Homo sapiens: one gene and its partners. The protein of the gene in region 1 purifies or fractionates together with the protein of each later gene. This does not show direct contact. Each region holds a gene or a part of one and is shown in the gene's direction. Other genes may lie near its edges.

Region 1 (3,712 bases):
GTATTACATTGACCAGAAAGGGATTGAATCACCCTTGGTCCAGCATCTGGCCCCTGATCTGCAGCCAATGGCAGGAATCGAGGTCCTCAGATGCTTCATGAATGGGAATTGCAGGGAGAGAAGGCTCTCTGATGTGGTGTTTCCTCGAGTCTCCTGCTGTGCTCCAAATTAAAAGCTTGTGTAAAACTCATGCATGTCATCCAAAAAGGCCTCTGGGCTCCATCCACTGCCAGTTCTGGAGAGGAGCTCTTCACTCCTCCAGTGGTTAAGCCAGCAGGGGCAGGTGGGGAGGACACAGCAGTAGAATCAGCCAACAGCTCATGTTTAGACCTTGGGCAGCCAGGGAAGCCTACTCCTGGGGCCTCCCGGAAGCCATGGAGAGAACAAAGCCATTGCATTTTTATAATAAAATTTGCAAACATATTTAAAAGCCAACAAACTGTTAATGAATCTCTACATTCTCATCGCCCAGCTTCAACAAGGATCAAGTCCTGGCCATTTGACAGCAGCATTTAAAGGCTCTCCTCTACTGTTACTTGGAAATAGCCACTTTCTCCCAAGGTTTCTTATACTCTATGGCACATCTGACCACCAGTAGCAGGCAGAATGATGTCTTCAACCCCAACACCATCAAAGATGTCCACATCCTAATCCCTGGAACGTAGGAATTAGGTTACATGGCAAAGGGAAATTAAGGTTCCAGATGGGATTAAGGTTGCTATTCGGCTGACTTCACAGAGATTATCATGGATTATTCAGGTGGGTCCAGTGTAGTCACCAGGTCCCTTAATGTGGACATGGGAGGCAGAAGAGGAAGTCTGAGTGATACAGTGTAAGAAATGGCTGATTTTGGCTTTGGAGATGGAGGAAGGGGACCATGAGCCAAAGAACACAGGATGCCTCTAGAAGGTGAAAAAGCAGGGAAAGGGATTTTCCCCTGAGGCCCCCAGAAAGAATCACAGCCCTGCTGACACCTTTATTTTAATCCACTGAGACCTGTTTTAGACTTCTGATCTCCAAAACTGTAAAGTAATAAATCCATGTTGTTGTAAGCCATTCGGTTCATGGTAATTTGTCACTGCAGCAGCAGGAATTAGTCAGTATCTCATAAGGATGGCATCCAGGTCCATTTCCCTAGCTAGATCCAGGGTCTCATGTAGGAGCAGCTCCTCAGATGGGGCCACTTCTGCACCCCAGAACCTCCTGCAGGTTGGGGCCAAGGTGAAGGAGATATGAGGATGCATGAGAAAGGGGTGCTGGGAGGAAACAATCCAGCTCCCAAAAAGAAACAAGTGTTTCTGTTGCTGAGAGAGGCAATTAAGAGAGTGGGACCCCAGGGTGGAGGTCCTTGTGTATAGAGAAGCAGGGCTGGGGAGGCTGGCAACCAGGGATGAGCTGTGAGCCAGGACACCTGGGCCAAGAAGGGGCAGGGAGGTCAAGGAAAGGAGCCAGGGCGGGAGACACCCAGCTTCCTCTGGGACATTCATTCAAGTGACACCTGTTGCCACAGACCACATTAGGAATGAGGGTGGAATGTGGAGGTTTATTGTCTTCACAACCACTAGCCCAGCCTGTTTCTGCTGTCCCCCACCCCACTACCAGGATAAAGGGCTGGCTGTCTTGGGGCTGAGGGAGATCGGGTGCTGAGCAGGATGCAGGGCCGCGTGGCAGGGAGCTGCGCTCCTCTGGGCCTGCTCCTGGTCTGTCTTCATCTCCCAGGTATGGAGGCCGTGATGCCCTTGGGCAGGAGGGACTGGAGGTCCCCCAGGAAACAGGAATTAAGGAAAGGGGTAAAGGCAGGAGGGTACACATTTAGGTCCCTGAGGGAAAAGGAAGAATAGGCATAGGGGAAGCAAAGGGAACTGGGGACTCGGGGACTGGAGACCACTGGTTGCTTTATCTTCCCTTTCCCTCAGGCCTCTTTGCCCGGAGCATCGGTGTTGTGGAGGAGAAAGTTTCCCAAAACTTGGGGACCAACTTGCCTCAGCTCGGACAACCTTCCTCCACTGGCCCCTCTAACTCTGAACATCCGCAGCCCGCTCTGGACCCTAGGTCTAATGACTTGGCAAGGGTTCCTCTGAAGCTCAGCGTGCCTGCATCAGATGGCTTCCCACCTGCAGGAGGTTCTGCAGTGCAGAGGTGGCCTCCATCGTGGGGGCTGCCTGCCATGGATTCCTGGCCCCCTGAGGATCCTTGGCAGATGATGGCTGCTGCGGCTGAGGACCGCCTGGGGGAAGCGCTGCCTGAAGAACTCTCTTACCTCTCCAGTGCTGCGGCCCTCGCTCCGGGCAGTGGCCCTTTGCCTGGGGAGTCTTCTCCCGATGCCACAGGCCTCTCACCCAAGGCTTCACTCCTCCACCAGGACTCGGAGTCCAGACGACTGCCCCGTTCTAATTCACTGGGAGCCGGGGGAAAAATCCTTTCCCAACGCCCTCCCTGGTCTCTCATCCACAGGGTTCTGCCTGATCACCCCTGGGGTACCCTGAATCCCAGTGTGTCCTGGGGAGGTGGAGGCCCTGGGACTGGTTGGGGAACGAGGCCCATGCCACACCCTGAGGGAATCTGGGGTATCAATAATCAACCCCCAGGTACCAGCTGGGGAAATATTAATCGGTATCCAGGAGGCAGCTGGGGAAATATTAATCGGTATCCAGGAGGCAGCTGGGGGAATATTAATCGGTATCCAGGAGGCAGCTGGGGGAATATTCATCTATACCCAGGTATCAATAACCCATTTCCTCCTGGAGTCCTCCGCCCTCCTGGCTCTTCTTGGAACATCCCAGCTGGCTTCCCTAATCCTCCAAGCCCTAGGTTGCAGTGGGGCTAGAGCACGATAGAGGGAAACCCAACATTGGGAGTTAGAGTCCTGCTCCCGCCCCTTGCTGTGTGGGCTCAATCCAGGCCCTGTCAGCATGTTTCCAGCACTATCCCCACTTTTCAGTGCCTCCCCTGCTCATCTCCAATAAAATAAAAGCACTTATGGAATTTGCTTCTCCTTGGTTTCTTTGTTTCTGGGCATAAGCTGAAGTGAGTCTGGGCATAAGCTGAAGTGAGTCTGTTCATTCCTGTTTTCTAGCCATCCCCACGGCCCTCTAGGGGCCCCTGCAGACGCTGTCTTGCTATCCCCATCCTTCACAAAGGATCAGTGCCCAAGTGCTTGAGGGTGGAGCCTCAGTCTCACCCCGGCCAGGTGGGAGAGCTGTTCCAGAATTGTGCTGGAATCTGAAAGGGGGAGGAGGGACAGCAGGACTAATTGAGATGGCACCTGCAGCAGGGGGCAAGGATGAGGTCCCAGAAGGCGGCTCCAGGGCCAGGTGGACAGGATTCCTTGCAACTCACAGAAACAGGAAGCCAAAAGTCGCAATGTCTACGCTTCACTTGTCTTTTCTTCCCCGGAAAGTCAAGCTTCTTGGAAGTGGAGGTACATCGACCTCCTCCCTTACAGGCATCATTTAGCACATTGTGTCCCACAGAACCACAGACTTTGAAGAGTTGCTGAGTAAATAGCAGACCTCGATAAAGGAAAAGAGAAAAGGGAGAAAGGAAAGGGAGAAAAAAACCTTGAAGCCAACAATCCCACCTGGGGTGGCATTTGATGCTTTCATTCCCAAGTGATGACACAGTCTCAGCCTTTGGTCACAGTATTGTCTCTCCTGCCCTCCCTTCGGTTTTCCCAGGAGCTCAACATCCTCACACAGGAGTTGGAGTGACG
Region 2 (3,879 bases), on another chromosome or scaffold:
CACCACACACCCAGCTAATTCTTGTATTTTTTTTTTTTTTTGACAGAGAGTTTTGCTCTTGTTGCCCAGGCTGTAGTGCAATGCCACGATTTTGGTTCACTGCAACCTCCACCTCCCGGGTTCAAGCAATTCTCTTGCCTCAGCCTCTGGAGTAGTTGGGATTACAGGTCCACGCCCCCACGCCCAGCTAATATTTTGTATTTTTAGTAGAGATGAGGTTTCACCATGCAAGTCAGGCTGGTGTTGAACTCCTGACCTCAGGTGATCCAACCACCTTGGCCTTCCAGAGTGCTGGGATTACAGGCGTGAGCCACCACGCCTGGCCTAATTTTTGTATTTTTAGTAGAGACAGGGTTTCACCATGTTGGCCAGGTGGGTCTTGAACTCCTGACCTCAGGCAGTTCACCCGCCTCAGCCTCCCAAAGTGCCGGAATTACAGGTATGAGCCACCACGCCCAGCCCTCATAAACTTTTTTTTTTTTTTTTGAGATGGAGTCTTGCTCTGTCGCCCAGTCTGGAGTGCGGTGGCACGATCTCGGCTCACTGCAAGCTCTGCCTCCCGGGTTCACGCCATTCTTCCGCCTCAGCCTCCCAAGTAGCTGGGACTACAGACACCCGCCATCACGCCCGGCTACTTTTTTTGTATTTTTAGTAAGACGGGGTTTCACTGTGTTAGCCAGGATGGTCTCCATCTGCTGACCTCATGATCTGCCCGCCTCAGCTTCCCAAAGTGCTGGGATTACAGGTGTGAGCCACCACGCCCGCCCCTTTTAAAGCATCTGTGATTTCACCATTTATCTACCCAAGCTTCACCATAAATTTGATGTTCTTGCTTCAGTTTAAGCAGAATTCATGTTGCTGTGATAGGGGCACTTAATGCCTTATCCTTCTTAGTGCCTCAAACCAGATCCTTTTCAGGCGTGTTACAGCAAGTCAGTACAAGTTTATTTTGGTGCAAAATGTTTTCGTAAGTACACATTTCCTGTGAACTTTTTGAAGACCCCTCATATATCCGATTGTTGTGCTGTGCCCTTGAAATCTCTTTTACTCTAGAGCAGTCCCTTTTTTTTCATCACAAACCGATTTATTGAAGAAAAGACTAGGTGTATTGTTTTGTACAATGTCCCACCTTCTGATTTGTCTGATTACGTCCTCTTGTCACTTGGCTTGTTGTTCTAGCCCCTGTGTTTTCTGTAACTGGAGTTAGCTCTAAAGGCTTGATTAGATAAAAGGTTAATGTTTTGGGGCAGAATACAGAAAAGGTGTTGTTGCTTTCGTAATGTATCACATCAGAAGAAAAAAGTACTAGGAAACAGGAACCTAACAACAAAAAGAATTGCATAGGCCGGGCACGGTGGCCCATGCTAGTAATCCTAGCGCTTTGGGAGGCCAAGACGGGTGGATTGCCTGAGCTCAGGAGTTCGAGACCAGCCTGGGTAACATGATGAAACTCTGTCTCTACTAAAATACAAAAAATTAACCCGTTGTGACGGTGTGCATCTGAAATCCCAGCTACTCAGGAGGCTGAGACAGGAGAATCGCTTGAACCCAGGAGGTAGAGGTTGCAGTGACCCGAGATCACACCATTGTACTCCAGTCTGGGTGATAGAGCAAGACTCTGTCTTAAAAAACAAACAAAAAACAAAAATTAGCCAGGCGTGGTGGTGTGCTCCTGTAATCCCAGCTACTTGAGAGGCTGACACACAAGAATCACTTGAACCTGGGAGGCAGAAGTTGGAGTGAGCCGATATCGCACCACTGCACTTCAGCCTGGGTGACAGAGCGAGACTCTGTCTCAAAAAAAAAGAATTGTATGATACGCTGATGAGGAGAGTATTGCTATCACCGAAGAAGTGGTAGCTTACATTTTAAAAAGCTTAGCCTGTCCACCCCCTACAGATACATTCTTTTCAAACCTAGGTCAGTTGAATTGGACTACATGTGTTTGTCACAGATAGGTTAGAGGCTGAGTAATCTTTGCCTTAGTCTCTTTTCCCTAAATTTATACCCTTTTCCCTAATTCCTAAACTTCCTTTGGACTGAACATACCTGGTGCTTGCTAGATTTGCTGAGTTCAGCATACCCCCCAGTCACACCACATCACGCCAGCCATAGGAGACAATTTCCGAAAGACCTGTAACAGTAGAGACCTGATCCACCAAAGGATTTGCTGTTATTTGCAATCTGTTTATGGTAACCAACACTTACCCCTTAGCACAGTAGTAATCCTGTGTCCTTAGAGAGTATTTTATCCCTGACTCAGGAGCTTCTCATTCTTTTTTTTTTTTTTTTTTTTTGAGATGGAGTCTTGTTCTGTTGCCCAAGCTGGAGTGCAGTGGCGCGATCTCTGCTCACTGCAAGCTCCGCCCCCCGGGTTCACGCCGTTCTCCTGCCTCAGCCTCCTGAGTAGCTAGGACTACAGGTGCCCGCCGCCAAGCCTGGCTAATTTTTTTATTTTTTAGTAGAGACGGGGTTTCATTCACCATGTTAGCTAGGATGATCTTGATCTCCTGACCTTGTGATCCACCTGCCTCAGCCTCCCAAGGTGCTGGGATTACAGGCGTGAGCCACCATGCCCAGCTGCTTCTCATTCTTAGAAATGAAGTTGGGCAGGGAAGCCTTAAGCATTTCTAGAGTGTGCCCCTTGTAGAACCTGATGAAAGCTATGGATCCTTTTCCCAGTAAAAAATACAAACACATTGACTCACATGACATTTTATGTTATTTCAGATCCTTTAAAAAGTTCTAAGGAACACACATGTACCTATTTCAGGATTTTATTACATGGCTAACATTCTCCTACCTTTTACTGTTTTTTCTGTTAATCCCAATGAGTGTTGCTGTTCTCTGGAGACAAAGAGGGGAGAATATCAAAAGCCAAAAAGTTCAGTTTTCTTAAGGATGATTTTATTTGTCATAATACCAGAAATTTTCAGGGGAATACTTCTCTGGTTTTGCAGTTAAAGTCAAAAGAAAAATAATTTTTTATATTTTCTTACAGTTAACTTTTCAGAAATGAATCTGTTCCATAGAATAAAGCCCACTGGCTTATTTTAAGGTACTTCTAAAAGGTCTTATTTTAACCAGATGTCATATATGTTCCGTATTTTAATTATTGAAAACATTTAAATGCAAAAGGTATTATAATTCAATTTTTGTTTATCATAATAATTTCAACTTGTATAACTTCACTGTCATATGATTTCATTTTCTTCTTGTTTTTATAGTGTATTCATTGCCTTCAAGAAAGCTGGTGGCTCTACAGTTAAGATCCATTTTTATTAAGGTTAGTATGTTGTAGTTTGCCTTTTTGTTTATTAAAGTGTAATGAGAAAATAAGTAACATTAGGGATTAAGATTCAAAAATTACTACTGTTTTTACCATATGTACAGTTAAGATCTGATTCTACAGAGAAATAATCTTACAATATTTCAGATGTGTTACTGTCTTTTCATGATTATATAGAAAGGAAGCAGGGCTTTTATCTTGAGTGTTAACATATTTTCAGTTCGGGTAGCATTGGTGAAAAAATGTAAGCATATTAATATTAGAGGTTTATTCCATTTGTATTACCTTTCAGCTGGTGGCATCTACATATAAACTATGTATATATCAAATTATGTATATGTCATAAAATATTCTGAATCCGACTTCTTTCCTCCTCCACTGCTGTCATTGAGTGCAAACCAGTGTCATCTTCATGCCCCTGACTAACTTGCTGATCTGCCTCCCACAAACAGCAGCACTGATGATCCTCTAAACGTACACCACATCACTACTCTCTTTGAAACCCTCCAGTGGCTTCTCCTCTCACTCAAAATTGTGATCCAGGAAAAGGGGCTCGCTTCCTGATGCACTGTGACACCAGGTTTTTGAGA
Region 3 (3,879 bases), on another chromosome or scaffold:
TTCAAACTTTTAGAAAAGTTGTAAGAGTAGTACAGAAAACTCCCAAACACCCCTGACCTGGCTTCTCTAGTTAACATTTGCTCCATTTGCTTTGTCACTCACGTTTGGGACTTCACCACAGTCACCATCTCATCACCCTTACACATTTCAGTGTGATACTCTTGCATAAGTACAGCGATAAAATCGGGAGATTTATCAGGTCACACTGTTTTTCCTTGCTCAGCTAATATCTTTCTTTTTTTTTTTTTGAGACAGAGTCTCGCTCTGTCACCCAGGCTGGAGTGCAGTGGTGCAATCTCGGCTCACTGCAAGCTCCGCCTCCTGGATTCACGCCATTCTTGTGCCTCAGCCTCCCAAGTAGCTGGGACTACAGGCGCCCGCCACCATGCCCAGCTAATTTTTTGTATTTTTAGTAGAGACGGAATTTCACTGTATTAGCCAGGATGGTCTTGATCTCTAACCTCGTGATCCGCCCACCTCGGCCTCCCAAAGTGCTGGGATTACAGGTGTGAGCCACCGCGCCTGGCCTTTTTTTTTTTTTTTTTTGGTGAGACAGAATCTTGCTCTGTCTCCCAGGCTGCACTACAGTGGCGCGATCTCGGCTCACTGCAACCTCCGCCTCCTGGGTTCAAGCAATTCTCCTGCCTCAGCCTCCCAAGTAGCTGGGATTACAGGTGTGTGCCACCACACCTGGCTAATTTTGTATTTTTAGTAGATACTTGATTTTGCCATGTTGGCCAGGCTGGTCTTGAACTCCTGACTTCAAGTGATCCTCCTGTCTCGGCCTTCCAAAGTGCTGGGATTACAGGCCTGAGCCACCAGCCTTGGCCCCCATCTTAAGGTCTTTAATGTAATCCCATCCGCCAGGACCCCTTAGCCCGGAAAGGTCACGCATTCACAGGTTCCGGGGATCAGGATGTGGATATCTTTTAGGGCACCAGTATCCAGCTGCCACAACACCCAGGCTCTTCCCGTCCCTCCTCTGCCCAGAGCCTGCCCCCGGCACCCCAGTGCCCTCAGGCCCGCATTCATGTTCCTCTTGTCTGCTCGGAGCCTGGGTGGACCTTGGCCACACCCGCCCAACCCTGCCCTTCCCGTATGCACCCTGACCTTCTTGCGTCAGCATTTTTAGAAATTGCTGGCGTGCAGCCTTGGGACCTTTGTCCGTTCGCCCCGCTCTCCCGTGACATTCTTTCTCAGGGCTCTTTGCCTGGTCCATGGACCTTCCATCTCCCCTGGAATGTCACCTCCTCAGGGTGTCACCGCCCCGGCTGTCCTGTGTGAAGGAGCCTCTGTGTTATTTGTGTCCTTGGTATTCCTTTGTTCATCCCTTGGTCGCCTGTTCTCTGTCTCTCTAGACTGGGTGCTCCAAGAGGCAGAACTCTTTTGGTTGTTGTTGTTTTTGAGACAGAGTCTCACTCTGTCGCCCAGGCTGGAGTGCAGTGGCGCGATCTCGGCTCACTGCAACCTCTGCCTCCCAGGTTCAAGCGATTCTCCTGCCTCAGCCTCCTGAGTATCTGGGATTACAGGTGCCCGCCACCATACCTGGCTAATTTTGTATCTTTAGTAGAGACAGGGTTTCACCATGTTGGCCAGGCTGGTCTCAAACTCCTGACCTCAGGTGATCCACCCGCCTCAGCCTCCCAAATTGCTGAGATTACAGGCATGAGCCACCCCGCCTGGCCTCCAAGAGTCAGAATTCTGTCATCATTTGATTCCTGCTGTGTCCATAGCGGCCGGCGCTGGGTCAGCCTGGAATAGCGGCTCAACACACGTCCCTGGCACAAATAATGAATTTGAGATTCAGTTTGTACCTGTGTCCTGCACACCTGTCACTCCTCTGGGCTCAGCCAGGGCCGGAGCTGCCTCCACTGCAGCCTAGGTCTCCCAAATTCTAGCTGCCCGTGTGTGTGTGTGTGTGTGTGTGTGTGTGTGTGTGTGTGTGTGTGTGTGTCTTTCTGCCCACTTGACCAAGGGGTGTGTGTGTGTGTGTGTGTGTGTGTGTGTGTGTGTGTGTGTCTTTCTCCCCACCTAACCAAGGGCCACTGGAGGCCAGGGCCAGGCTGATTCATTTTGGGTCCAGCATTGCACAGCGCAGGCCTGGGCCCCTAGAAGCCTCGGGAGACATGCGTGCGGTAAGTGTGTGTTGGCAGCGTGTGCGCTGTCCTTTCCTGCCTGGAAACCCTACCCCTTCCTGACTACTTGGAAACTCCCATATGAGGGAGGCTGCACTTGTTTGCTGAGGCCGCTGTAACCAAGTACCACTGACCAGGTGCTTCAGCAACAGAACTTGACTGTCTCATGGCCTGCAGTCAGAGTCCAAAGTGAAAGTATTGGCAGGGTTGGTTCCTTCTGGGGCTATGAGGGAGGATCTGTACCAGGCCCCTCTCCTTGGCTTGCAGATGGCCGTCTTCTCACTGCATTTTCACACCATCTTTCCTCTCTGTGTGCCTGGCCCAAATTTCTCCTTCCATTATTATTTTTTATTAATTATTATTATTATTATTTTTTTTTTTTTCCAAGACAGAGTTTTGCTCTCGTTGCCCAGGCTGGAGTGCGGTGGCGCGATCTCAGCTCACTGCAACCTCTGCCTCCCAGGTTCAAGCGATTCTCCTGCCTCAGACTCCTAAGTAGCTGGGATTACAAGCACGCGCCACCACGCCTGGATAATTTTGTATTTTTAGTACAGATGGAGTTTTGCCATGTTGGGCAGGCTGGTTTCGAATTCCTGACCTCAGGTGATCCACCCGCCTTGGCCTCCCAAAGTGCTAGGATTACAGGTGTGAGCCACCGCGCCCGGCCTATTATTATTTTGAGACAGGGTTTCACTTCTATCCTCCAGGCTAGAGTGCAGTGGTGCGATCTCGGCTCACTGCATCCTCCCCCTCCCACGCTCAAGTGATTCTCCTGCCTTAGCCTCCTGAGCAGCTGGGACTACAGGCACACACCACTGCACACAGCTAATTTTTATATTTTTTGTAGAGATGGGGTTTCACCATGTTGCCCACGCTGGTCTCGAATGCCTGAGCCCAAGTGATCCTCCCACCTCAGTCTCCCAAAGTGCTGGGATTACAGGCATGAGCCACTGTGCCCAGTCATAAATTTCTGCCTTTTATAAGGTCACCAATCATGTTGGATTAGGGCCCACAGTAATGACCTCATCTTAACCTGATTCCCTCTGTAAAGACCTAGTCTCCAAATCAGGTCACATTCTGAGGTACTGGGGCTTAGGACTTCAACATAGAAACTTAGGAGCGTGCAATTTAACCCCTAAGATTGGTTGATGCTTTATCAAAAATTTTGATGTTTTTCTTTTGTTTGTATGTATGTATTTATTTTATTTATTTATTTTTCAGACGGAGTCTCACTCTGTCACCAGGCTGGTGCAGTGGCGTGATCTCGGCTCACTGCAACCTCCGCCTCCCAGGTTCCAGTGATTCCCCTGCCTCAGCCTCCCAAGTAGCTGGGGCTACAGGTGCGCACCACCATGCCCAGCTAATTTTTTATGTTTTTATTAGAGATGGGGTTTCACCATGTTGGCCAGGATGGTCTCAATCTCTTGATCTTGTGATCCGCCCCCCTTGGCCTCCCAAAGTGCTGGGATTACAGGCGTGAGCCACCGCACCCAGCCTTGTTTGTTTTTTTTAAAGAGTGGTTGAGGCTGGGCGTGGTGGCTCACACCTGTAATCACAACACTTTGGGAGGCCGAGGTGGGTGGATCACCTGAGGTCAGGAGTTCAAGACCAGCCTGGCCAACATGGTGAAACCCTGTTTCTGTTTCTACTAAAAATACAAAAATTAGCCGAGTGTGGTGGCATGCACCTGTAGTCCCAGTTACTCGGGGCTGAGGCAGGAGGATTGCTTGAGCCTGGGAGGCGG
Region 4 (3,879 bases), on another chromosome or scaffold:
ACCTATGCTACCCTCACCTGTGCCCCCCCACCCGCACCTGTGCCCCCCTCACCTGTGCCTGTGCAGCCGTCACCCATGCCATTCCTCACCTGTACCCCTCACCCATGCCTGTGCCGTTCCTCACCCGTGCCTGTGCCCCCCTCACCCGTGCCTGTGCCTCCCTCACTTGCGCTGTGCCCCCCTCACCTGTGCTGTGCCCTTTGCCTTGTGGCTGCTCCTGCACTTGGTTCTCTCTCTGTTGGTCGGTTTTCCCATTGGCTGTGCAGCTCCCTGGTGTGCACGTGGCTCTGAGTCTTCCTCTCGTGAAAACCCCTTCCTTGCCCCCGTCCTCCTCCAGCTACTACTCCCTGTCTCTGCCCCTTCATGTCTCTCTTCCTGTTTTACCTAAATCAGATTTTTGCCCCCCAACACTCCACCCAGATGTTCCTCTTGAGGACAGGATGATGCTCCTGAAAGCGGTCAGTCCACAGCGGACCCCACTGCCTCGAGACGCTCCCATCACTCGGCTCCCGTGACACCATCCTCTGGGCTCTCCCCACCCCTCGCTGCATGTCCTCACTTGCCTATGCTGTCTTCTCTAGTCTTGGAGGCCTTTTGTTTTATGTCACCAGCCAGCCCTCCAGAGGTTGTGTGGCTTCACAGACGGTCTCCAAGCTCCTGTCCCCACACTGCTGCCCTCCCCAGGCCTCTCTCCCTGAGGCCATCCCGTGTAGTCACCTCCCGGAGCTCTCTTCGCATGTCTGGAAGGCAGTTCAAAGATACGATACCAGGCGCAAAACCAAATGCCGCATCTCGGCCTTGGGGCCCCAGACGAGCCCCAGACCTGCCTTACTAAGCCACCCTTCCCAAGTCAGTTGACAGCGATGTCCCCCGGCACTTGTTCAGTGACAGCCGAGAACTCGGAGGTTTTCTCGATTTCTGTTTCTCACGTTTATCCTTGAGTCCACGATGGCTGCTGGGGCTGCGGCCTTCGCGGCCAGGAGGAGGGTAAGGGGGAATCAGTGCCGCCCTGCGTGGCCAGCTCCCTGCGTGGGGGCCTTAGTGGACATCCTCCCAAGCGTTTACACTTCAGCTCATTCCCCAGAGCACGGGGCTGGCCATTTCTAGCTTTGGAGGAGCCTGAAAAAGTACGTGCGTATGTGTGTGTGTATACATACATATAGAGAGAGAGCACGCGCTTGAGTGTGGGCTCATTGCTGCCCTAAATAAAATTAGGATGTGGTTCCTTTTGCCCTTTGTCCCTTGCCTGCCTGGTTTCCTTTGCAGCACTCGTCACAGTCTGACGCGGTCGCCTGCATCTCTCTGTGCTTTGGTTGGGCGTCTCCTTTAGAGCGTCTGCTCTGCGAGGGCACGGGCCGTCCTTTGTCGTCGTTCACGTCACACCCACGAGTGCCTGGCACAGGAGTCAGTCAATGGCTGTTGGCCGAACCAATTTCTCCCCCGTCTGTCTGGGAAATTCCTAAACTTCGCATCTCACTTTTGTCCACTTGCCGCATTCTAGAGTATGTCTTGGTCTCATGGCCTGTGCTCTCATCTGGCTGTGGTCAGCCTCTTGCGTTTCCTTTCTCCCTTGCCTCCACCCCTCGCGATGTAGCCCCATCCCCTGCCCTTCTCTGCTTCCCATTGTTCTAGAACATTCCAGCATGGAAACCCCGCTGTGCAAGGCCCCTGCACTGGCCACAGAAGCCGCACCTATCTGCTGAGGAACCCGGTTGCTGCCTGGAGTGGGTGTCGAGTACTGCCTGGCAGCATAGCCATGCTTCTTGAGGCATTTTAGCACCCTGTACCCCAGGTACTGTTCCATATGCCCCTCCTTCTCCATGAGCCCCCCATGCCTGCCCCGTCCTTGTGCTCTGCCCGCGGCTTGGCCCTGTCTGTCGCCTGCCTGCTTGTGCTCACTGTTTCCTTTCTTTTACTGGAGATATGTCATTTGTGCCCCGCCCAAGGCCAGCCTTTGTTCATGCACCAGACCCCCTGCCCCATCCCTGTGACCTGAAGAGGCATGTGCCGTCTTCTGGTTATCCACGAAGAGGCACACGCGCCGTCTTCTGGTTATCCACGAAGAGGCACACGCGCCGTCTTCTGGTTATCCACGAAGAGGCACACGCGCCGTCTTCTGGTTAACTGTGTGCGGGACCCACAGGTCCCCTCTGTCTGAGCCAGCCCTGCCTTGGGGTCTCTGGAATTGCTTCTCATCTGGTTTTACCCCCATCACAGTGCTATAGTCAGGGCACCAGGTAACCCCAAGACACTGCTGAGACCCATGATGGATTCTTGCTGCCCATCTCGACCTCTCACAGGGCTGGAACACAGCTCACCCCCTCGGGCTCCTAGAGCGCCATCCTCGCGTTTCCCCCCGGGCTCAGTCCTTGGCCCTGGGTGTTGCTGTGAGCACCGCTGCCTTGGTGCTCTCACAGGGTCTAGTGGACTGATAGGACCCTCTGTGTATACTGATGACTCCCAGGCAGGTATCTTCCCAACCCCAGAGCCCTGTATCCAGTAGCCTGTAAAACATACCCACTTGGCAAGGCACTTTGGCATTAAAATTATTATTATTAAAATTATTATTATTTTTAGAGATGGGATCTCACTCTGGCACCCAGGCGGGAGTGCAGTGGCATGATCACAGCTCACTTCAGCCTTGACCTCCTGGGCTCAGGTGATCTTCCTGCCTCAGCCTCCCGGGTAACTGGGACCACGGGCGCCTGCTTCCGTGTCTGGCTAATTTTTTTATTTGTAGAGATAGGTTCTAGCTCCGTTGTCTAGGCTGGTCTCCATCTCTTGGGCTCAAGCATTCCTCCCTCCTGGGCGTCCAAAAGTGTTGGAATAACAGGTGTGAGCCACCATGCCCAGCTCCTTGGCATATTTAGATCTGAGCTTATCATCTTAACACCTGCTGCCCAAACCAATTCTACCAGTCTCCCTTCTCTTCGGGAAGGGCAGCCCCTCCATCTCCCTTGGTCAGGCCAGAACCTTCAGGTTGGCCTTGATGCCTCTGTTGTCACAGCTCATGCCCAGCCCGTCTGCCCCTCCACCCTGGCGTCAGGACATGCCCAGGCCCAGCTGCTGCTGCTCTTCCCACCTCTGCCCCTGCGGCTCAAGTCGCATCTCTCTCTGGAATATTGAATAGCCTTCTGGCTGCTCCTGCTCTGCTCATGCCCACCCCGGCTGCCCCAGCGCCAGATCCTGTCGTCTTTTTGTTCTAGGAGTTTCCTGACCTGGGGATGAAGGCCAGGGTCGTTACAGTGGCTCCCAGGCCCTTTGCCCTGTAGGGTGCTGGGCCCAGTGGCCTTTCTGCCGCCATTCAGCCAGGCCAGCATGCCGAGCCCAGGGTTTTACTGCCACCTTCCTCTGTCTGGAGCGCTCCTTCCACAGATGTCCATGGTCCCATGTCCTCACCTTCAATCTTTGCCAACGTCCGTGGTCCCATGTCCTCACCTCCTTCAATCTTCGCTGAGCTGTCAGCTTGTGAAGCTTCTCTGACTCCACTGTTGAAACTGCAGCCCCAGCATCTCCCACTTCTGCCCTTTTCCCTCGTGAGTCGTGACCGCTGTCTCACATAACGGTATTTTGCTTGTTTCTGACCACTGGGATTATAAGCTCTTTTGAAGGATAGAGAAGAAATAAATTCTCCAATTAACAAATGAACAAAATAATATTAAATATTATTTTGGCAATTCTGTCTAAAGCAGTAAGAATTGAAATAGAAGTAAATGTAACCATTGAGAAAGTCAGCACAATAACGGGGCATACAGTAAGTGCACGAAACCCAGTCGCCACCCTCTATATCACCGCCAGCCAGTTAGAACACATCCCATTCACCATAACCCAAAGCAGCAGAGACAGACGATCCAACAGCATCCTTAGCAGGCAGCCTGA

What was found.
Region 2: the proteins of C6orf15 (region 1) and PSMG2 purify together in Homo sapiens (affinity purification with mass spectrometry; one large-scale study listed by BioGRID and IntAct). This does not show direct contact.
Region 3: the proteins of C6orf15 (region 1) and NUCB1 purify together in Homo sapiens (affinity purification with mass spectrometry; one large-scale study listed by BioGRID and IntAct). This does not show direct contact.
Region 4: the proteins of C6orf15 (region 1) and MAEA purify together in Homo sapiens (affinity purification with mass spectrometry; one large-scale study listed by BioGRID and IntAct). This does not show direct contact.

Annotation. Positions count from the first base shown.
Region 1 is NC_000006.12:31,110,496-31,114,207, reverse strand, and holds C6orf15 (uncharacterized protein C6orf15 precursor), read left to right. Parts: upstream 1-1,632; 5' UTR 1,633-1,652; coding exon 1,653-1,719; intron 1,720-1,916; coding exon 1,917-2,827; 3' UTR 2,828-2,985; downstream 2,986-3,712.
Region 2 is NC_000018.10:12,709,475-12,713,353, forward strand, and holds part of PSMG2 (proteasome assembly chaperone 2), read left to right. Parts: intron 1-3,227; coding exon 3,228-3,286; intron 3,287-3,879. UniProt on the Homo sapiens protein: Chaperone protein which promotes assembly of the 20S proteasome as part of a heterodimer with PSMG1.
Region 3 is NC_000019.10:48,906,745-48,910,623, forward strand, and holds part of NUCB1 (nucleobindin-1 precursor), read left to right. Parts: intron 1-3,879. UniProt on the Homo sapiens protein: Major calcium-binding protein of the Golgi which may have a role in calcium homeostasis. Acts as a non-receptor guanine nucleotide exchange factor which binds to and activates alpha subunits of guanine nucleotide-binding proteins (G proteins).
Region 4 is NC_000004.12:1,296,324-1,300,202, forward strand, and holds part of MAEA (E3 ubiquitin-protein transferase MAEA), read left to right. Parts: intron 1-1,650; exon of another isoform or gene 1,651-1,792; intron 1,793-3,879.